Regions from separate parts of the Homo sapiens genome. Here all the other regions are reported to be linked to region 1. The links are microRNA targets in miRTarBase. Many come from high-throughput screens and were not tested one by one. Region 1 holds a microRNA gene; each other region holds the end of a gene's coding sequence. Distances are from middle to middle.
What was found. The annotated mature microRNA hsa-miR-6839-5p reads UCUGGAUUGAAGAGACGACCCA and lies in region 1 at 5,285-5,306, opposite strand. An mRNA with a match to its seed (bases 2 to 7 or 8) in the 3' UTR can be bound and repressed. Matches are read on the target gene's strand: a 7mer-m8 pairs with bases 2 to 8, a 7mer-A1 pairs with bases 2 to 7 and ends in A, and an 8mer does both.

Region 2: the mRNA of IGF2BP3 is a reported target of hsa-miR-6839-5p. Seed matches in the 3' UTR shown: 7mer-A1 at 6,718-6,724.
Region 3: miRTarBase lists NCKAP1L as a target of hsa-miR-6839-5p. Seed matches in the 3' UTR shown: 7mer-m8 at 963-969, 8mer at 3,570-3,577 and 7mer-m8 at 4,030-4,036.

Annotation. Positions count from the first base shown.
Region 1 is chr7:64,676,992-64,684,374 of GRCh38, reverse strand. It overlaps MIR6839 (microRNA 6839), which reads right to left and starts at 5,311; the gene lies at 5,199-5,311. All of the region lies in intron 1 of ZNF107 (zinc finger protein 107), which reads right to left. It also overlaps the pseudogene BNIP3P11.
Region 2 is chr7:23,305,556-23,312,938 of GRCh38, forward strand. It overlaps IGF2BP3 (insulin like growth factor 2 mRNA binding protein 3), which reads right to left. Exons shown (of 15, transcript NM_006547.3): 14 at 7,180-7,293; 15 at 4,654-6,905. The coding sequence ends at 6,807. MALSU1 (mitochondrial assembly of ribosomal large subunit 1) reads left to right here. Exons shown (of 4, transcript NM_138446.2): 3 at 2,313-2,394; 4 at 3,801-6,174. The coding sequence ends at 3,988. Among named protein-coding and RNA genes, the nearest start is that of MALSU1, 9.9 kb to the left of the region's middle. RefSeq lists a silencer at 2,822-3,022.
Region 3 is chr12:54,541,879-54,549,261 of GRCh38, forward strand. NCKAP1L (NCK associated protein 1 like) reads left to right here. Exons shown (of 31, transcript NM_005337.5): 31 at 697-6,365. The coding sequence ends at 807. Among named protein-coding and RNA genes, the nearest start is that of PDE1B, 4.0 kb to the right of the region's middle. RefSeq lists an enhancer at 4,581-5,125.

The DNA.
Region 1 (7,383 bases):
ATGGGCTGTCTGGCCAGAGTGTCCTCATATGGCTGGGTATCTGAGGTGGGTAAAAGAAGGTTAGCAGCCTGACAGATTTCATTCCTAGCCTGTTGGAGGACTGGTGTCTGGGATGAGGTTGGGCCCCAGTAGAAAAGTACTACCATATAAGAGTTCGAATGGGCTATACCTGGTAGGTTCATGGGCGGTGGCTCAGATCCTGAGAAGCACAAGTGGTAGGAGAACAGTCCAGTCCTTTCGGAGTTGGAGGGTGAGTTTTTAAGAGGCCGTTGGCTCTTTCAACCTTTCCTGAGGAATGAGGATGGTATGGGGTGTGGAGATTCCACTGGATGCCAAGGGCCTGGGAAACTGCCTGGGTGATTTGGCTAATGAAGGCTGGACCACTGTCAGATTGGATGGAAGTAGGGAGGCCGAAACAGGTAACAATATCTGTTAGAAGAGAGGTAAAAACTGCTGCAGCCTTTTCAGATCCAGTAGGGAAGGCCTCGACCCATCTGGTGAAGGTATCAACCCAAACTAGGAGGTACTTATATTTTTTGACACGAGGCATATGAGTGAAGTCAATTTGCCAATCTTGTGTAGTAGTAAACCCTCAGGCCTGATGTGCTGGGGAAGGAGGGGGCCTAAGAAAACCTTGGAGTGGCAGACAGAACATTAAGAAGTGATTGTTTAAGGACGGACTTCCATGATGAGAAAGAAATAAGGGGCTCTAGGAGGCGAGCCAAAGGCTTGTATCCTACATGGAAGCGGTCATGGAGGGATAAGAGAATAGATTGCGCTTGTGAGGCAGGAAGAAGGAACTTTCTATGATCTAAGAACCACTTGCCTTGTGAGTTGGAAAGGACTAGCAGAGCAGGTTTTCAGAAGAAGAGTAGTAGGTAGGGATAATAGATGAGAAAGAAATATACTGGTCTTTTGGAGCAGAGACTGGAACGTCTGCAGACACTGAGGTGTTTGCCACCTCTTTTGCTGTTTTACTGGCATGGGCATTTCCTTTAGTGATAGGGTCTGTTGGTTTTTGGCATCCTCTGCAGTGGACAACTCCAGCCTTGGCTGGCAGAAGAGCAGCCTTAAGGAGGGCCTTTATGAGAAAGGCATTGATAATGGAAGACCCTTGTGTGGTTAGAAAACCTCTTTCCACCCAGATGGCAGCACTGTGATGAAGGATGTGGAAAGCATACCTGGAATCAGTATAAATATTGACGTGCATTCCCTTAGAGAGAGACAGCGTGAGTTAAAGCAATTAGTTCAGCTTGCTGAGAGGTGGTGGAGGGTGGAAGTGCAGCAGCCTCGATAACAGATGTGTGGGACACAACAAATAGCATAACCTGCCTTGGCTGGCGAAAATTGGTTGGGTCTTGAAGAACTACCATCAATAAACCAAGTGTGATCTGGGTTTGGGACTGGAAAAACAGAAATGTGAGGAGAGGGGGAGGATGCCATGTGTATTAAGGAGATGCAGTCATGTGGCTCAGGACATGTGTTGGGTGCTAAGTGAAAGGCTGGGTTGAAACTGGGTCCAAGAGCAATGGTTAGCATGGGGTTTAAAATAAAGAGTGAATAAAGCTGGAGGAGATGGGAGGAGAGTAGTTGTGTGAGGTGAGAGGAAGAAATGAGACTCTGGAGGTTGTGAGCGCTATAGAGGGTAACTGGGGTGTAACCAGTGATTTTGAGGGATTCTAGGAGTATTAGGGCAGTGGCCGCTGCAGCATGTAAACAGGGCAGCCAGCCTAGGACTGTGAGGTCAAGTTTAGATAAGTAGGCCACTGGTCGTGGGCCTGGCCCTTGTGTTAGGACCCCAACTGCACATCCCTTTACCTCTGCCATGTAGAGAGAAGGGCTGGGTGGAGTCGAGGAACGCCAGTGAGGAGGCTGTCTCAAGAGCTTTTTTCAGGGAGTGAAAGGATGAATGAGGGAAGGTTTGGGGTCTATGGGGTCAGCTAGGTTGCCTTTTGTAAGCTTATAAAGGGGTTTTGTTAAGAGGGCAAAACCAGGTACCTAGAGGTGGAAGTACCCAATGATGCCTAGGAAGGAGAGAAGCTGCTGTTTTTGAAGGGACTGGGGTCTAGGAGATTAGGTGAATACGGTCAGCGGGGGGAGTGCGGGTGTGCTGATGGAGAATTATGCTGAGACAAATAACAGAAGGGGAAGAAATTTGAGCTTTAGAAGGGGACATTCGGTACCCTTTAGAGTCTAAATGCTGAAGGAGTAGGAGGATATTCTGTTGGGAGGATTCCTAGGAGAGACTGCAGAGATCATCGACATACTGGATGAGGTAGGAAAAGGAAGGCTGAAAAGAGAGTAGGTCGCAGGCAAGGGCTTGGCTAAAATAATGAGGGCTATTCCGGAAGCCCTGGGAAGAATGGTCCAGGTTAGTTGTTGGGACTGATGGGTGTCAGCGTCAGTCCAGGTGAAGGCAAAAAGAGGTTGAGAGGAGGGATGTAGGGGAATGGTGTAGAAGGCATCTTTTAGGCTGAGAACGGAATAATAGGTAGTGGTGGGAGGTATTCTGGACAAGAGAGTATATGGGTTTGGCACTATAGAATGGATGAAAAGTACAATCTGATTGATGAGACGAAGGTCTTGAACTAATATGTAGGACTTGTCTGGTTTTTGAAAGGGAAGGATGGGAGAGTTAATGGGTACTAAGAGGCCATGTTGTAAAAAGTGGGTAAAAAGGCTTTAGGCCTTTTAGGGGTGGCATAGGGATAGGATACTGGCATTGGGCAGGGTAAGGATGGTTTGGCCTTAAAGGGATGATAAGGGGGGAGTGATCTGTAGCAAGGGAGGGAGAGATGATATCCCAGACCCTGGGGTTGAGGAAGGGAGACGTTAGAGGAGCTTGTGGGGATGGTGAAGGGTTGGGGAGAAGGGTGGCAAGGAGGTGTGGCTGTAGCCTAGGAATAGTGAGGGAGGCAGACAGTTTTGTTAGGATGCCTCAGCCGAGGAGAGGGACTGGACAAGTGGGGATGACTAAAAGGAGTGCAAAAAGGAGTGCTGATCTAGTTGACACACAAGTGGAGTCTGGAGAGGTCTGGAGGCTTTGCCGTCAATTCCCACAACAGTCATGGAGGCTAGGGAGACAGGTCCCTGAAAGGAGGGCAGGGTGGAGTGAGTGGCCCCCATATCGATCAAAAAGGGGATGGACTTACCCTCCACCTTAAGAGTTACCCGAGGTCCATGATGGTCCATGGGGCCTCCGAGGTGTTCGGGCAGTGTCATTCCTCAGCCGCCAAGCCGAGGAGATCAGAGAAGGAGTCAGCCAGGGGGCTGTGGGGTTAAGCTCCAGGAGCTCTAGGGATGGCAGCTTGAGTTGGACAGTCTGACTTCCAGTGAGGGCCTGCACAAACAGGGCATGGCTTAGGAGGAACCCCAGGCTGCAGGCATTCCTTGGCCCAGTGACTATTTTTATGGCACTTGAAGCATGGCCCTGGAGGGGCTGCTGGGCGCTGCGGTCTGGATGCCTTGAAATCCCTACAGGCCATTGGTGTGGCTGGGGTTCGTCTTACGGCGGAGGCAAGCATCTGTAATTCAGAAACACGCTGCCACCAGGTAGCCTCTTCCCTGTTACTGAACACCTTAAAGGCAAGGTTAATTAAATCCTGTTGTGGGGTTTGAGGGCCAGACTCTAATTTTTGAAGTTTTTTTCTAATGTCGGGAGCTGACTGGGTAATAAAATGCATGAGTCGGCCTTCTGGCCCCTGGCCCTTCAGGGTCTAAAGCTGGATTTATGGCCAGATGGGCCACAAACTGGGCTGGATTTTCGTCCTTGCCCTGAGTGATTTCTTTTAACTTATCATAATTGACAGCCTTATACGCAGCTTTTTGGAGTCCCTCTACTAAGCAAGTGATCATATAATCTCGCCCGGCCATACCAGGAGATCCTGTTTGATAGTTCCACTGGGGGTCCTCACGGGGGACCTCCCTGGAGACCTGGCTCAAGGCGCCAGTGGTCACCTGCATAGGACTGAGCTAGGGCCCAAACACCCTCCCATTCTTCAGGAGTGAGTGTAGAAGTGAGGATGACATTTAAGTCACTCCAGGTGAGGTTATAAGACTGAGTTAAATATTGAAATTCCTGGATATATTTAGTGGAGTCTTATGGAAAAGAACCTAAACACTGGCTGACCTGAGACAGGTCAGACAGGGAGAAAGAAACATGAACTCGGACTATCCCTTCAGCTCCAGCCACCTCTCAAAGGGGAAATAGTGGGGTGGGAGGAGGGGGATTAGAAGTGGGACCAAATTGTCAGCCAGTTCGGGTATGGGGCAGAGTAGGGACAGAAGGGATATAGGGAGGCATGGTATGGGTAGAAGGGGGACTGGGGTCTGGAGAAGGGTTGGGACCGGAGTCGGACGGGCAGGGAGGAGAAATATCGGAAGGGTCTGTGGACAAGAAGGACTCGCTGTCGCCAGAGGGTGGTAGGGGAGCAGATGGGCGGGACAGAAGGAGAATTTGAGACAAATTGCATTGGGAACAAGGGCTGGGGAGGGACCGAAGTGTAAAACATGCCTGGATGTATGGAACCTCAAACCATTTGCCCATTTTGTGACAAAAGTTGTCTAAGTCCCACAAAATAGAGAAATTGAAAGTGCCATTTTCTGGCCACTGAGAGCCACTGTCTAATTTATATTGGGGCCAGGCCATATTACAGAAGAAAATGAGATGTTTAGGTTCCAAATCAGGTGAAAGACGGAGCGGTTTTAGATTCCTAAGGACACAGTCCAAAGGACAAGGAGGAGGAATGGAGGGTGGAAGGGTGCCCATAATGAACAGCGGAGGACTGAAGAAACAGAGAGACAGGGAGAGAGAAACGAGGAGGAGAGCAACCACAAGGACCTTCAGCAGGTGTCCCCATCTGGGTTGTGCAGTGGATGAGTGGCCAAGGCACATGTCCCTGTGGTTGACCAGTCACCTAGGGAAGCCTGTCTTCCCAGAGATAATCCATGACCAATGTTAGATTTAGGAAACACAGACAGTGAGTGTCCTCTCCTCTCTAAGAAAAGGAAAGTTTGAGAAAGGATGGAGGTCTCTTACCTATCCGAAGGCAGAGGCGGGGCTTTTACAGAGCTGGTCCGAGGTACCGAGGTCGCGGGTGGGTCTCTTCAAGAAGTCGGGGGAAGGGGTTAAGGGACACGACTCCCAAAGGAGTTCCCCTATCCCGGATTTCAGCATCAAATGTGTGTTATGGCACAGTCTGGATTGAAGAGAAAACCCAAGCAGGCTTCGTGTGAGCTCGCACCCAAGTGAATAAATAGCCTCACTGCTCACACAAAGCCTGCTTGGGTCGTCTCTTCAATCCAGACTACACCATAACACAAAGTAAGGTTCCTCTTTCATCTCTGCTGCTCTCTTATCTTCTAGCCATTGAATGGGAGATCTATACTGGAATATGCCTGACAATTTCCACCAAAACATTTTGATGAACAATTGGAATATGACTTTGTTAATATAGTGGAATATATTTGAGCTTGCATCATGGCTAAGTGAAGAGCTATTATGGTTTTTGAGTGGCCACATCACCCTTATTTGTCTTGTAATAGCAGCATTCCAATTTAGTGAAATAAAAGACACTAAAATCATGCTTCCCTAATATTATCTCTATTGAATAAACTAGTAAGCATATCATACTAATATCTACTATAATAATTTGGTAGTAAATTTTCTTTCACATTGGATAAAATACCTAAGTATAAATAATTTTAGTGTACTAGTCATAATGTATGTAGGATTTTAAAATATTGTCTGTAACCATAATTCAATTAAAACACTTTATGTTTTGAAAGTATGAATAACAATACTAAAATGACTAAGGGATTCATTCAAAGTAAATATTGTGGCCTTACATTTATACTAGTGTAGAAAATACTGTTCAATTGATATGAATGCAGTTTGTCTACAAATGCTACACCTAACTATGCTAATTGTTCTGAAGTAATAAATAGAAACCAAAGAACAACTACATACTCCACTGTTCGGTTCATACACTGAACCTCGCTTTTGCAATGGAAGTATTTTAGCCTGCAAATATTAGATAATTACGTTGGATAATCCATTTTCTGTCAAAGGAATTTACTCAGCATTTTTTAGTCCTCATTATTCAGTACTGCTAAATTTAATACTATCTTTGTGCTCAACTTTTGTGTGCTCTTAAAATGAGTTTTGATTTAAACAAATCTGTGTCTACTTTAAAAGATTAAAAAATTTTAAAAAATTTGCCAAAGCAAAAACAAAGCAATAAACCTGAGGTCTCAGATAAAGACAATCCCAAATCAAGAACAATGACCAAAAATTTATTTAGCTGTTAATATAATTTATGTATCGTTCAAAACAACAAAGACAAAAATCTATGTATAATTTAAATCCTTTAAGAAAAAAGAGATTAGCAAAATATCCTCCCTTATTTTTCACATAGGAGAATAAAGCCTCTTATTTCTAATTTTTATTTTCTCCTACAACAGACAGGTCTCTGGACATGTTTTTGAACTCCTGGACATCCTTTTTTTTTTTTTTTTTTTTTTTGAGACAGAGTCTTGCTCTGTCGCCCAGGCTGGAGTGCAGTGGCTTGATCTTGGCTCACTGCAAGCCCCGCCTTGCGGGTTCACACCATTCTCCTGCCTCAGCCTCCCAAGTAGCTGGGTCTATAGGCACCCACTACCACGCCCATCTAATTTTTGTATTTTTAGTAGAGACAGGGTTTCACCGTGTTAGCCAGGATGGTCTCGATCTCCTGATCTCATGATCCGCCCGCCTCGGCCTCCCAAAGTGCTGGGATTACAGGCGTGAGCCACCACGCCTAGCCGAACTCTTGGACATCTTAATTTTGCACACTGTATGCAACTGAAAGAATGTTATCAGAAAAAAAAATAGAAGAGAGAAAGGTGTTATAAAAAAAAAAATCCGGCGAGGTGCGGTGGCTCATGCCTGTAATCCCAGCACTTTGAGAGGCCAAGGCGGGTGGATCACCTAAGGTCATGAGTTCGAGACCAGCCTGACCAACATGGCAAAACCCCGTCTCTACTAAAAATACAAAAATTTGCCAGGCATGGTGATGCATGCCTGTAATCCCAGCTACTTGGGAAGCTGAGGCAGGTGAATGGCTTGAACCTGGGAGATGGAGGTTGCAGTGAGCCAAAATCATGCCACTGCACTCCAGCCTGGGCAACAAGAGTGAAACTCCATCTCAAAAAAAAAAAAATCCATGGGTATGTTAATCCAGAAAAATGACAAGACAAATCTCAATCATTTTAGGAGGTTTTTTGCCAAAGTTAAGGAGGTGTGCCCTGGAGACAAGTCTATGTCTTTCTTCTAAGATCATTTTGAGGACTTCATATTTAAAAGGAAAAGGGTGGGATGTTGGTAAGTATACAATTTTCATGTAA
Region 2 (7,383 bases), 41 Mb from region 1:
TAGTAGAGATGAGGTTTCACCATTTTGGCTAGGCTGGTCTTAAACTCCTAACCTCAGGTGATGCACCCGCCTTGGCCTCCCAAAGGGCTGGGATTACAGGTGTGAGCCACCGTGTCTGGCCCCACATAAAGTTTAGGTTGGATTTTTCTGTTTCTTCAAAAAATATTGTGATCTTGATATAGATTGCACTGAATCTGTAGACTGCATTGGGTAGTATTGGCATCTTTACAATATTGTCTTCCCATCCATGAATATGAAGTATCTTTCCATTTACTGGCATCTGTAAGTTCTTTCAGCAGTGTTTTGTAGTCTTCATTGTACAAGTCTTTTGCTCCTGTGGTTAAGATTATTCTGCTAGGCTGCTCACGGTGGCTGATGTCTGTAATCCTAGCACTTTGGGAGGCCGAGGCAGGCAGATCACCTGAGATCGGGAGTTCAAGACCAGCCGCACCAACATGGAGAAACCCCGTCTCTACTGAAAATACAAAATTAGCCGGGCGTGGTGGCGCATGCCTGTAATCCCGGCTACTTGGGAGGCTGAGGCAGGAGAATCGCTTGAACTTGGGAGGTGGAGGTTGCTGTGAGCCGCGATTGCGCCATTATAGTCCAGCCTGGGCAACAAGAGCGAAACTCAAAACAAGAACGTCTCAATTAAAAAAAAAAAAGTATTATTCTGCTATTGTAAATGGAATTCTAAAAACTTTGTTTCCAGGTTGCTCATTGTTAGTGTATAGAAATACGATGGATTTTTGTGTGCTGAATTTGTTTAGTAGCCCTAACTGGGTTTTTTTTGTGGAATCTTTGGGGTTTTCTACATATGAAGTTGTATTGTCTTCAGAGATAATTTTACTTCCTCCTTTCCAATTTGGGTACCTTTTTTTTTTTTATTGACGAATTGCTCTGACTAGAACTTCCAATACTGTGTTGAATAGAAGTAGCAAAAGCAGGCATAGTCTTGTTCCTGATCTTACAGGAAAGCTTTCAGTCTCACCATTGAATATATTAGCTGTGTGCTTTTCTCACATGGCCCTTATTATGTTGAGGTAATTTCCTTTTATGCCCACTTTGTTGAGTGCTTTATTGTGAAAGGGTATTGAATTTTGTTAAATGCTTTTTCTGCGTCAGTTCAGATTATCATATAGATTTTTTCTTCATTCTGTTAATGTGGTGTTATTGCATTGATCCGTTTTTATATGTTGAACCACCTTGCATTCCAGGGATAAATCCCACTTGGTCATGGTCTATAATCCTTTTAATATGGTGCTGAGTTTGGTTTGCTAGTATTTTTGTTGAGGATTTTTGCATCAAATGTTCATCAGGGTTATTGGTCTTATGGAATGAGTTAGGAAGTGTTCCCTGTTCTTCAATTTTTTGGGGAGAATTTGAGTATTGCATTCTTGTTTAAATATTTGGTAAAACTCATCAGGGAAGCCATCTGGTCTAGGACTTTTGTTGGGAGATTTTTGATTACTGATCCAGTCCCCATACTAGTTATGGTCTATTGAAACTTTATATTTCTGCATGATTCAGTCAGTAGATTGTGTTTCTAGAAATTTTGCTATTTCGTCTAGGTTACCCAGTTGTTTGGTGTACAGTTGCTCATAATACTCTTACAATCCCATTTCTCTAAAATCAGTAGTGTCACTTCTTTCATTTCAGATTTTAGTTGTCTTTTTTCTTAGTCATTCTAAGAACCAAATCCTAGTTTCATTGATTTTGTCTTTTTCCTGCCCTAATTATCATTTCCTTTGATTTTGGGGTGATGTATATGAGATGTCCTTTGTCTCTTGTAACAGTTTTTACTTAATTGCCATCTTGTTTGATATTAGTATATCTGTTTTAACAAAAGAACTGAGCACATTTATAGGATGACGGGGTCCCATTAACATGTCATAAAGGCAGATGAGATGAAATCAGTGGCACTGAAACAACCTGGCTTTATAAACAGAAGGTAGTATCTGCAGCCCCTAAAGGTGAAGGAAAGCTGGGATGAACACAAGTGATGGATGTAGGTGGGTACCAAATGCTGACTGAGCTTAGCTTTTTCAGCCTCAGAGGCACCTTGGTGAATGAATGGGGTGACCCTCTCAGAAGGGCTGGGGCAGGAGAATTCAGGAGAGAGGTGAAAGTGAATAAGATTTAGAGGGAGAAATAGTTTCCCTAAGTTATTCATCACAGGGCAAAGTATAGCAATGAGAAATGAGTAAGAAAGATTAAAAAAAACAAACAAACAAACAAAAAAAAAAGACCTTCAGCAAGAACAGGCTTCCCCCATCCCCTCTCCCTTTAATAAACCACCTGGCTTTTTGCAGTACAAACACCTGAAATGTAAACGTGACCCTCATGTTAAGATAGAAGGGAAGGACACTGATGACTGGCTGTGCGTGGATTTTGGTAAGTTATTCTGGCGTATTTTACAGGTAACTGTTGGTACTACGCTAATCTTGAATTGTTTTCAGTTGCAAAAGGATTGAGATCAAATTGATGAATGTATTTCCAGGTAAGATTTTTGAAGTGTGTTTAAGGTAACAAAAGTTTTTTTAGTTATAATCCAGGTGGTCTTATTCACATGTAGAATTTTCACCTAACCAAACCAAAGTACCCTAGATGATGCCCTCCTGGAGGAAGATATATACTACATGGTGTGTATCTACTAGCCACACAGATCAGGAAGGTGGTGGACAACAGGATAACATAGTAGAGGCGGGAGAGATTCCTTAGTAGTGGTAGAGGAAGGTTTGGGGGCTGTGGTGCATAAATGAGATGAGGATGAGGTTATTCCAGGCACAAAAAAGGACAAGAGCAGAAGACTAGAATTTTGAAAAGATCTAACAACTTTGGGTATTAATGTGTACATAGTTTCAAAGCACCTCCCAACAAGATAATATTTACAAAGGGGAAACATAACTGTATGTCAAGAACTGAGGAGTCTGAGATTTTATTCTGCTTGTAAGCTAATACATTGTCCCGCCAGTTTTCATGGACACTGGTAAAAGACAAGACTATTAGAGGGTTAGAGACAAAGAACAGTTTATTACTCACAGCAGTAGCCAGCATCCATTTTGCACTGGTTTCCTGAGCTCTGGATTCCATAGGGCAACATGGGCCAGATGACACCAGCACACACAGTTGTAAAACTGGAACTCAGATGAGGGTGTCTAGGTTTTTTATAACTGGCAGGAAGCAGGCCTACTTTTGCTCTGATGGTTTCTCACTTTTGTCGCTATTAACGTTTTGGACCAGGTAATTTTGCATGTGGGGGAGGGGTGTCTCTTGTGCACGGTACGATGTTTAGCAGTATCCTCCCTTCTCCAATTGTGACAATCAAAAATGACTCTAAACATTACCATTATTACCTAATTGAGAAATGCTGCTGTAAGCAAAGCTGCCCTTTGCCCTGGAGGGAGGCAGTATCTTTCTGTTAAGAATATTCACGATACAAACATTCTTGGATAGTCAAAACAAAAGGCAGTCAGTGTTTTTGCACAAAAGATGTGCAGAAGTGTGTTACCCATGGAGAATTGTCACCGAAGAGAATCCTGACACCATTAGTCTCTTTGATAAAGTTACTATCACCAGCAATGTTATATATTGACATATGCCTCCTGTAGGTACACTGAGAAAGGCATAGCATCACTTCTGTGGTATTTTTGCTGGGATGGAGTCCACAGTGATGCTAATCTGGGAACCACACTTGAGAACCACTGCTTTATTCCTAGAGTTAGCCAGTGTGTGTTGTAAGGTAAGAATAAAAGCAAATGAACTATTCCTTCATTGTATCTCTTATCTGTCCCTGACAGGCAGCATGGTGATTCATTTGATGCTTCCAGAAACCAGAGAAATCTATGAATTAGAGAAATTATGGACCCTACGTTCTTATGATGACCAGTTAGCTCAGATAGCACCTGAGACAGTACCTGAAGACTTCATTCTTGGAATAGAAGATGATACTTCATCTGTGACTCCAGTGGAGTTAAAATGTGAATAAAATATTTTATGCACTGCGTTAGTCATTTCAGATTTGGATTGAGTCACTTATTGGAAAATACAGCTCCTAAAGTCCGTCTCCTTGGTTAGGCTGCTCTTAGGACAAGGCTTGTGTACCTCATGGGCACTCCTGCTAACTGGCATGCAGAGACTGTCGATAAGTGAGCTATACCTGCAACCAAAAATCAGTACATTCTACCCAAAACTTATGACACGCTGCCTTTATCCTGGAAATGTCATCAGAATTTCCTGGAGTTAGCACTGGCTCCTGTGCTTGACTTCTCTGCTCAGATTTTTATTAATTTAATTTAGCTTAAATGTAAATCTTAACCCTGTTTGTTTAATGGAATGGCAAAAATTTTAAAAAATAATATAAAACATAGCCCACTGGTCTTATTTTTATACTTTGAGGTGATAATATTCTTCTAGGAGGACTTCTGTAACCCTTCCAGAATACTCCAGTAACACAAGAAAGTAAACAAAGTGTTTGTTAGGAAAAACTCTGAACGCTCTAGTTCTTAGTTCATATGCAAGAGTATTATCAAGGTTCACATTAAGTACCATGGCTGGACATGGTATAACAGAAATCTGCGTAGAGTTTGAAAAAAAATTCAGAACATTCCCATTCAATTGAAAACCAAAAATAAAACATACTACACAACAAGCTGCACCTAAATGATGAAAAAATTTATTCTGCGTCAAGGTATCTGGAAAATGAAGCTGCATTTGGGGCACATTATACATGAGGAATGATCCATATATGGTGAGTACAAAACTCAATTATAGAATTATTTCTTAGCTAGTACCAGATACTCCAAATTACAAATGCTTAAGTAAAAGTAAAATATGATTTGCCATACTAAAAGGCTAGAAGTGAAATATGACAGAATTTAAACCAGCAGATATAAATGCAGCACCTATGTGTATATTTTTAAAAAATCAAATATTGGGGAAAAAAATCAAATACTGAGAAAAGCTCTGGCCTTAAACACATCTTACCTGAAATCCAACCAGAAAGCCAGTCCATGATTTTAGCAATTTTAATTCATTGTATGAAAAAAAAATCATGAATGCTAGGAGAATCCAGTGACAAAAAGGGCACTTTTTTGGTTAAAACTACAAAAGAAACTTGTTTTCAGAGAACATTAAGGAAAACACTTTAAATCATTTTCAAAATGTCTAATTGATCTTCAGAAAAACATCTAGTCTGTATAGAAATTCATCTTGAAATAAGAATGAGGCAGTGATTTTTTTTTTAAAGGGTTATATATATGTCCTTTAGATCAGTGTAACATGACTGTGATCATCTTACAAACAAAACTCAAAAAATCAATTCAGAGAGCAGCGTGGCCTTGGAGACCACCCACACCCAACACAATTGTACGTACTGGGCTTTGCTGTCAAGGAGTGAGCAAATGAGTTCGTTATCAAAGGTCATATGTTTTCACAGTCATTCAAATTATATCCCAAAAACTTTTCTTGTATTCTCTATCTTTTGACTTTTTTTTCAAAGAACTGATTGCACAGTATACAGAAATCCTGTTATACTTTACTACTTAAGGTGGAGTCTAATTTTTTTTTTTTAATTTATCAGTGCTTAAAAATCTTCAAAATAGCTTAGTGAGGCTCATGACAGTGCTGGCCCCATGGAAATGTAGCCTTTTGTTGCGTTTAAACACTGTCACACCATCTATGACTGTCCCATTGGTCTGAAGTGTAGTGGCAAACTAAGCATCCTATAAGACAAGCTAAAGCTTGCTTTTTGCCAGTCAGTTGAAAGTCTTGCATCTCTTCACTGATGCACTTTCTTTAGGTATTGATAGTCAGAAGCACAAAGCATTTATTATGCATTCAATCATGTAGCTAAACAAAAAACTGAAGTCTCCTGAAGCCATTTAAACCAGCCGTTCCAAAATCTCCTGCGACCACTTTGTTAGTACCGTCAAAAACTTTCCCAACTATAAATGAAAGAATAAATGGTAGTGCTGCTCTCCAGATACTAGGCACTGCTCCGTATTTTTGAACATTTGATTTAACTAATAACTGTGTCAAAAGCCTCAAAAAACCCTGAAATTAATTTTCCAGCTTTACTGTCACCAGCCAGAAGTAAAAATCTTAATTTGCCTGTTAGCTGATTGCTGTTAAATTTTAAATTTATTTTTTAAAAAACGGTTGGACTTCTATCATTATAAAGTATATAAAATTTTCAAAAAAAAGGAACAATTTTGCTTTTCATTGTATTACTGAATACCTGAGGTAGTTGAGTAAAAATGCACGTTTAATACCCCTGCCAACACCATTCAGCACTTCCCTTAGGTTACTCATGTTAGTGTTAGGTAAAAATAAAACTGAGAACAGTTTTTCTATGCTAATGGCTTAACATTTAAGTTCCTGTGATAATTATTCTGATCCAATTTTAACAATTGGATTTAGGAGCAATCTATTTGATGAATTTAGTGAAAGCATCATTAAGCCAATTTCTGGCATTATGGGGGAATATTAAGAAGAATTAGAATATCTGTTATACTGTGAGACTACAACAAAGGGAAGTGCAGAGCTCTTCTCTTTCCCTCCCTCCCCCACCCTTTTTTTGTTTGTTTGTTTGTTTGTTTTAAAGCTGGGTGTCATACATTTCAGAGAGCATAAAGTATACATTCTCACAGAGACAGGAGTTCAAAAGTTGCCTGGTCCTCAGAAACAACTGGCTAGGTAAAAACTTGTGCATGTGATTCTGGATAGGGGGTCAGCGCCCATCTGTTGGTTAAGCAATCTGTCTTTGGTTTGGCATCTGCCTCTGTGGTGGGCTGTTTCCTGAGCCTTTACTTCCGTCTTGACTGAGGTGGTCCACTTTGCAGAGCCTTCTGTTGTTGGTGCTGCTTTACCTGAGTCAGAATTTCCTGAATTTTTCTCTGGGCAACCTAGAAAAGGACAGAGCTTTGAAATTCCACTTGATCAAAAGCTACTAAAAGTTATTGTACTCCTTCATTTCAACAATTTCAAATAGAAATCCATTTGATGATTAAAGATACATACTAGTCAGTTTGCTAGTAGTCTCTGAAATCACCCGCTAAAAGGGAGATGAAAAGTCTTAAGCATCAAACAACCTTAACTAATTCTATCAGGTAGGAGCACCTGTGGGAGAATTGCTTCCACGTGAGAAAGATACAATAGCTTATTTTAGAGCCCACTTGCCTGGCAAGCATAGAAGTGACCAGTTATTTTGACAACCACTTGGTCATTCTCATCAGGTGTCTGGTCACGAGGGACAACAACTTCTGCACTTGACAAATTCTGAAGTTCATTCACCTGAAAGAGATAAATATAAATCACATTAAGTGGCAGTTTTAAAACCTTACTTCCTAAGCACTTACTGTGCGCCAGACAGTGAGCTATGTA
Region 3 (7,383 bases), not on the chromosome of region 1:
CTCCAGTCCACCGCTAGGCTATGCTGCTCTTCATGAACATGCCCTGTCCACCCACCTCCCCCTCTTCACCCTCACCCCCACTCTCATTCTTCTCCGGGCATCTTGATCTATCTTCCTGCTTGGCTGTGGGGGCTGCTGGGATTACCGCAGCACACAGGCTTCTAATTAAACTAATTAATCATGCCTGCTCCTTTATGCGGCATCCTTACTGTTCCCCAAGCACTGTACTGAGAGAGGGAGGAGACTGAGGCCCAACACAAGAGGACCCATGTGGATTCCAGGCCCCCTTCCGTGGCCTGCAGTGGTGTTTGTTTCTCTTGCTGCAAAGCTTTGTAATTAGCACTTTTATACATCTTTACCTGCATCTGTGTGCTGCCCACCCACATGTGATTTAGCATCCAGAATGGGAGAGAATGGGTTTTGCTGCACTGGGAAAGTGGTTCTCTCCTGCTGTCTGCTTCTGTGCCCTTCACATAGTCCTGATGAGGGGGTCAGGGTCAATGATAATGGAGCTGAAGATGCCACATTGCCTTCCTGCAGCCAAACCAAGTGAGGGAAGAGGGGGGTGTGATTTGGAACCCTGTTCACTTGTAACTCTCAGGGCCTCAGAGGGCCTGGGAACTATGCAAAAGGAACAGGGTATCACAGACAAATGCCCTACCTGAGGTTCTCATCTCTTGGCCCCATCTCTTTCAGGTGGTGGAGGAGTCATCCTTCCTGACCCTGGACATGCTGGAGTCCTGTTTCCCTTATGTCCTGCTTCGAAATGCCTATCGGGAGGTGTCTCGGGCCTTCCACCTAAACTGAATGCCTGCCAGTACCCACTGAAGAGCCCTTTGGACCTTCCTAAACCCTTGCCATAGTGGAAGCTGTGGTCACTTTCGCAGGGGGTGGGAATGGGGTGGGGTCACTAAGGAGAGAGGGTCAGGAGCCAGAGTTGATGAGCAGATCTGTGGAAGAACAATCCAGGGCTGAGAAATCGTAGAGCAGTGAGGCAGGCTGGGAGCATGGAGGACAGCTTATGGAAAAAGTTAGGGCGTGGGGCCACATGTGTGAATTTTACAATGAAAAAAGGAGTAACGTACAAGTATATTTTCTATCTTCTGGTGACTTGAGCTTGAGCTCTGACAGGCATGGGCCTCTCCGACCTTCATCACTATTCTTAGGATAATGCTGGCGGGCAGAGATGATCAATCATCATATTAAATCATAATGAGCTTATAATCCTCCCACTGGAGCTGCTATTGTCTCCTGCACATTCATTAGGACCATTATCTTCTCTCTTCCTTTTTCAAATGTGTTCAGCAAACATTCAACCTGCTCCTACTGCAGAGTAGCAGCAAAGGAGCCCCTCTTTTCCTTTGTGGGGCTCTTCGAGGGGTCATTGGGTCTCTTCCTTTGCCCCCAGCTTGACTGCGTTTCCTACTGGGGCAAGGAGGAAGTGCCCTTCAGAGATGTTCACTGCCCACCTACTCTACTACATTGTTTGTTACAAGTTCTCTCTTGCTTTAACCCCTCCTGCTTTGATATCTCCACAACCCAGAGCAGAGGGTCAGTTAGTCTCCGTCAATTCTAGGTTACATGACAACTGATTGGCCCAGACTTAGGTGGGTTTTCCCTCCTGTACCATTTGGGGGTACTCTGCCTTTTATTGGGAGGGACTAATTTAACCCCAAATCCTTTTGTCAGCCTGGGTATAGCTGTTGCTCCAGGAAGGGATTTCTCTTCTGGATCTTAAATTTCACAGACCTCATTAGGTTGTATGGCCCTGAGAGTGGGTATCCTTGAGGGAGTACAAGCTGTTTCAACTTAGCCCTTTTCTGCGCTAATTAGAATTTCAAGCGTCACAGAGCCTGGGGGCTTTCAAGATAGCACTAAACTAGGTTTACTTAACTCCTTGGCAGGAAATAGTGGCCCCCATGCATCACTTCTGTGAATCCACTGCCAGGGAGAAGTGGAGAAACAGATCATATATGTCACAGGTCTAGAGTGGTTGGAATTGACAAATATAATTAGCTAGTTGGTTAATTAGGGTCATGTCCATACTTTCATGATGAAAGGGAAGCAGTTGTCGGTTTTCAGCAAAAACGATTCAGCCTTCCTGAAGCCTATTTGATAGCTGTTTTGGGGTTTTGTACATGTGTTTGCTTTTTATTTCTTGAGACCCAGGCTTAGTCAATACTTTCTTAACTTGGCACCCATAATCAACATACAGATTTTTCTTAGCAACAGTTGTCTGCTCTTTAGGGTGGAAGCGATAGAGAATCCTGCTTCGTGCATCAGCAAATCCTCCTTCCTTGCTATGGGAAGGGCTTATGTTCTAAAGGGTGATTCAGTGTCAGGCTTATGAGACTGAGAGTAAAGTTGATGAGGAAGAGGAGGCTCAGAAGTATCTGAACAACTACTCTATATGTTTATATTTTTCTGCTTGAGGGGATAGAGATCCCTCCTCCATCTGCATCTGCATATAGAACTGCTTAAGAGGACAGCAAGACAAGTTGCTGCAGGGGGATGGAGGGTAGACAGAATGCCTTTTTTTAAAACTGAAAATTTTATTGAGATACTTAATCCACCTGCACTTGTAAGAAATCATACAGAGAAATTCTATTTTCCTTTACACAGTTTCCCTGAATGCTAACATCTAGCAAAACTGTAGTACACTGCCACAACCAGGATAACTGACATTGATATAATCTACTGATCTTGTTCAGATTTCCTTCCCCAGTTTTGCTTATGTTCATTTCTCTCTGTGTGTGCACGTGTGTGTGTTATCTATTTCTATACAGCTTTATCATGTGTAGGTTTGTGTATCTGCCACTGCAGTCAACATACAGAACAGGCCGGGCGCAGTGGCTCACGCCTGTAATCCCAGCACTTTGGGAGGCCAAGGCAGGTGGATCACCTGAGGTCAGGGGTTTGAGAGCAGCCTGGCCAATATAGTGAAACACCGTCTCTACTAAAAATACCAAAACTAGCCGGGCGTGGTGGTGCATGCCTGTAGTCCCACTACTCAGGAGGCTGAGGCAGCAGAATAACTTGATCCCGGGAGGCGGAGGTTGCAGTAAGCTAAGATCCTGCCACAGCATTCCAGGCTGAGTGACAGAGCGAGACTCTGTCTCAAAAAATAAATAATAATTTAAAAAAAGATACAGAACAGTTCCATCACCACAAGGATCCCTCGCATTGCTCTTTTATAGCAATTTTATAGCAATTTTCTCCTCCCACAACCCCCTTCCCCATCTCTAGCTCCTGGTAACACAGATATATTCTCTATTTCTAAAATTTTGTCATTTGATATATCTTTTTGTAAACATATAATTATACACACATATTTCTCTACCACTTATACTTTTTCAAAGTGCTTTCACATCCTTATAGCAATTCTGCAAGGTAGCCAGGGAAGGCTTTCCTATTTCAGGTCAGAAAACAGATTTAGAAATATTAAATGACTTAATGAAGGTCACATGTTTAGCAGTAGAACTAGAACTGGGACCCAAGTCTGATGTTCAGTCCTAGACCTTTTCTACTTGCCCGGTCTGCCTCTTCACAAGGGAAGACTTGGGTTTTAGAATCCAGAGACCTTAGAAGGAGCAAATTGGAGAAGGTGAGGACATGATGGCCTTTACTACCGGAAGCAAAAAGTGAATGTCCAGAGGTGAAGGGACAGAGAAGTAACAGGACCCATCAGCATTTCAGGCAATTTGCTTCCTTTACCAGGAGGGTCTCTGTCCTCTTACAACCTGGGAAAAAATAAGTTGTGTCCCAGGTTGTAAGTTTGCTTTACTTAGGCCCAAAGGAACTAAAGAATGGATATCAGAAATCTCACCCCAATTGTTTTGTCTTACAGGCACAGAATAGGTTCTAGCCTCAGCATTTTCATTAATGTAGTGTTTTTATTAACATCTCCATTAACTTGCTTGCAGCAATGAGATGGAATTATGCCTCCCACAAGGCCTGGGGCAAGATACTTGCATAGGTGCCCCCTTTTGTTTGGACAGTAGAAACACTGCCTCCCCTGCCATGGTGTTCAATCCAGTTGGCAGGTGGGCCAGCTTCAAAGTGCAGAAGGAACTGGGTGTGGTGGCTCACCCCTGTAATCCCAGCACTTTGGGAGGCAGGCGGATCGCTTGAACTCAGGAGTTTGAGACCACTCTGGGCAACACAGTGAAACCCTGTCTCTCCAAAAATACAAAAAATTAGCTGGGCATGGTGGCTGTTGTCTGTAATCCCAACACTTTGGGAGGCTGAGGCCAGTGGATCTCTTGAGCTAAGGAGGTTAAGACCAGCCTGGTCAACATGGCGAACTCCGTCTCTACAAAAAAATACGAAAATTAGCTGGGCGTAGTAGTTCCTGCCTGTAGTCCTAGCTACTTGGAAGGCTGAGGTGGGGAGGATCGCTTGAGTCCGGGAGGCAGAGGTTGCAGTGAGCGAAGATGATGCCATTGCACTCCAGTCTGGGTGACAGAGCAAGATCCTGTCTCACAAAAAAAAAAAAAAAAAAAAATGCAGAAGGTCCAGGGCCTGGCCAAGGGGATGATGCCCTGTAGCACTTTGCTTTGCAGGAAGGGAACAACTGTGCTGTGAATACCAGGATCCAGGAGGGAGGGAGGGTATATCTGTGTCCCCCAGCTAGGGACAAGGCTTCCTTAACCTTAGGTCCTCATGCTTATATTAGTTCTTCTCCAACAAAGTTTGACTTTGAGAAGAAGCTGGCACATGGCTGAAATGCACTCACGCGGTTGGGGGAAGAGTGTTCTTCCAGTCCTCCTCCCCACAGGGCCTCCTGCTTCTCCTAAGTACCTGTCATCAAAGGAGATGAAGATGAATCCCCCTTCAGCCCCCACACCTCAATGAGTTGTCAAGTACTCTCCCTCCCACTTGAATAGGAAGCAGGAGCAGCAGGCCAGGTTGCAGGTTGAGGAAGTCAGAAGTTAACTTGAGCTGAGTTTGCAGCTCTGGAGAGATTGAGGAGCAGACTTTTCTCTTGTCACTTTGGAAGGAGAGGATTGTGAGGCTGCCCCTTTAAATAGCATTCCCGTAGGAGGCAGATCACATCCATCCGTCACCTACTGCCAAAGCATCATTTTTGGTTTCTATCAAACTCAAAGCTTGTTGGAAAGGATTGTGGGGTTAGGGGAGTGAGGAGGCAGAGCCTCCTAGGGGTAGGGGGCAGTTTAGAAGCTGAAAAGGAGAGGAATGAGAAGGAGCCTGGGAAAGGTGGGGGATGAGGACAAGAGGAAAAGACAGGGAGAGAATAGTTGTCTTTTGAGCCTCAGAGTGGAACAAGTATACCCAATTCTTATCTGTTTAGAGACGCAGCAAGGTAGAAATGGGATTGTATTGCAACAAGAGGAATGAGGTTGAGACTAAACACCAGGACTGGTGACTAAAGAAAGTGAAAGGAGCCACAGAGTGAAAAAGGCTGATAGACTTGGCTCTGGTTTTATCACTTACTCTCTGTGAGACCCTATAATTTTTCTGGGTTAGTTTAGTTCTCATTTATTTTTATTTTTACTTTTTCCATCAAACTGTGTTGTCTATGAAGTTTTCCCATTTATTAAATGAAGGGAATTAGAGTGGATGAACTCTAATGTCTCTTTCACGAATAACTTTGTGTGTGTGTGCGTGTGTGTGTGTGTGTGTGTGTGTGTGTGTGAATTAGCCTTAAAATGAATCAGGAGCAGGGGGTCTTGGGAGAGCAGGATGTGACACTGTGTTAACAAGAAATGTTGAGAGAGCCCTCTGGATGTATGTCTTGCCTCTTTCCCACCTATTCTAGTTTAAAGACCTGCCTAAATTTGGAAACTCCTTAGCTCTAATCCTAATTTACTAATTAGAGCTCTTTAGCACCATCCTAATTTGCAATTCTTTTGTAGTTTCCAGCCCATTTCATTTTCAGTTGATAAGGAGGAGATTGCTCCCAAATTTTCAGAAATGGACTGTGTAGGAGTGTGACTAGGGTCTCAGATGCAGCCATTTCTTGGCTGGGTCTGGGGAAAAGCCAAGGGATGTGTGCTAAAGGTAGATGGACAGAGGGTGGGAAGTCCCTTATTATTTCCACTTTTTTCTCCATCTCTGACTCTGCCATCTCTTTCTGCCTCTGTACTTTCTGGGAGCTGGTTCTGCTGATACTTCTGCTGAATCTAAATGCTGACCTAACTTGGCAATTCTTTTATGTTAGGAGTCTTAGCTGTGACAGTTCATCCGCTTCTTCGCCCTTCCATTTCACTTCTTTTCTCCTTCTCTGACTGGGAGAGGAGGAGCCTCCACTCAGTATTTAGAACAGAGTAAATACCTTCTCCTGATCACTCCTCCTTCCAACCTCCAGAATTTTTTGAAATTAAAATTCACATTCTGGGATCCTGGATTAGTGGCCTGTTTTGGATTCAGTAGTTAGTGAATATATCTCCACTTTCTGTTGACATAGGAGTTTCCCCAATGCCAAAGCAGGTGGTCATTAAGGGAGAGAACAATATGGAGCAAGAGAGGTGGTTCCTGCAAGAGTCCTAGGTAGGACTCGGTTGGATGGAGGAGGCTTTGCCCTTTTACAAGGTCTTGAGTTCAAATTCCAGTTCACTCCTTCCACAAATGTTTATTAACCAGCTAGGCTGTTTTGTGCTGGGCCTTTAGCTCCTAGATTTCTTTCTCTGAAGACAGAACAGAAAAAATGAGCTGGAAGTGCTTCAGGAGGGGTTTTGATATCAGGAATGCTTTCCTGGCTGTGTAGAGTTATTACCTAGTCAAAGAAGAAGATGTTAAGCTGGGTGCGGTGGCTCACACCTGTAATCCCACCACTTTGGGAGGCCGACGTGGGCGGATCACGAGGTCAGGAGTTGGAGACCAGCCTGGCCAATATAGTGAAACCCCATCTCTACTAAAAAATACAAAAATTAGCCGGCGTGGTGGCCCGCGCCTGTAGTCCCAGCTACTCCAGGAGGCTGAGGCAGGAGAATCGCTGGAACTGGGGAGGCAGAGGTTGCAGTGAGCCGAGATCGCGCCACTGCACTGCAGCCTGGGCGACACAGACTCCTTCTCAAAAAAAAAAAAAAAAAAAAAAAAAAAAAAAAAGATGCCTGCTCTGGAGAGCTTTGAACTTGGAAGAAATTCCTATCTGCTAGGCGGGCAGGCAGAAGTACCATGGAGAAGGCCACAGTCTTGGAGACAGGTGGGGAAGATCAAGCTGAGGGACCCGAGGCCAAGTGTGGGATGCCATCACAGCTCAGGGCACACCCTGAACTTTTCCAAGACAGGAGCACAGGTGGGGTCTGGTCCGACTGGGTTCCGAGTCCAGATCTAGCAGGGAAAGATGTGTGCTCATCCCCTACCCCGCACTCAGACATGGGACACGCAGGCAGCTAGGCACACGTGGATACATGGAACCAC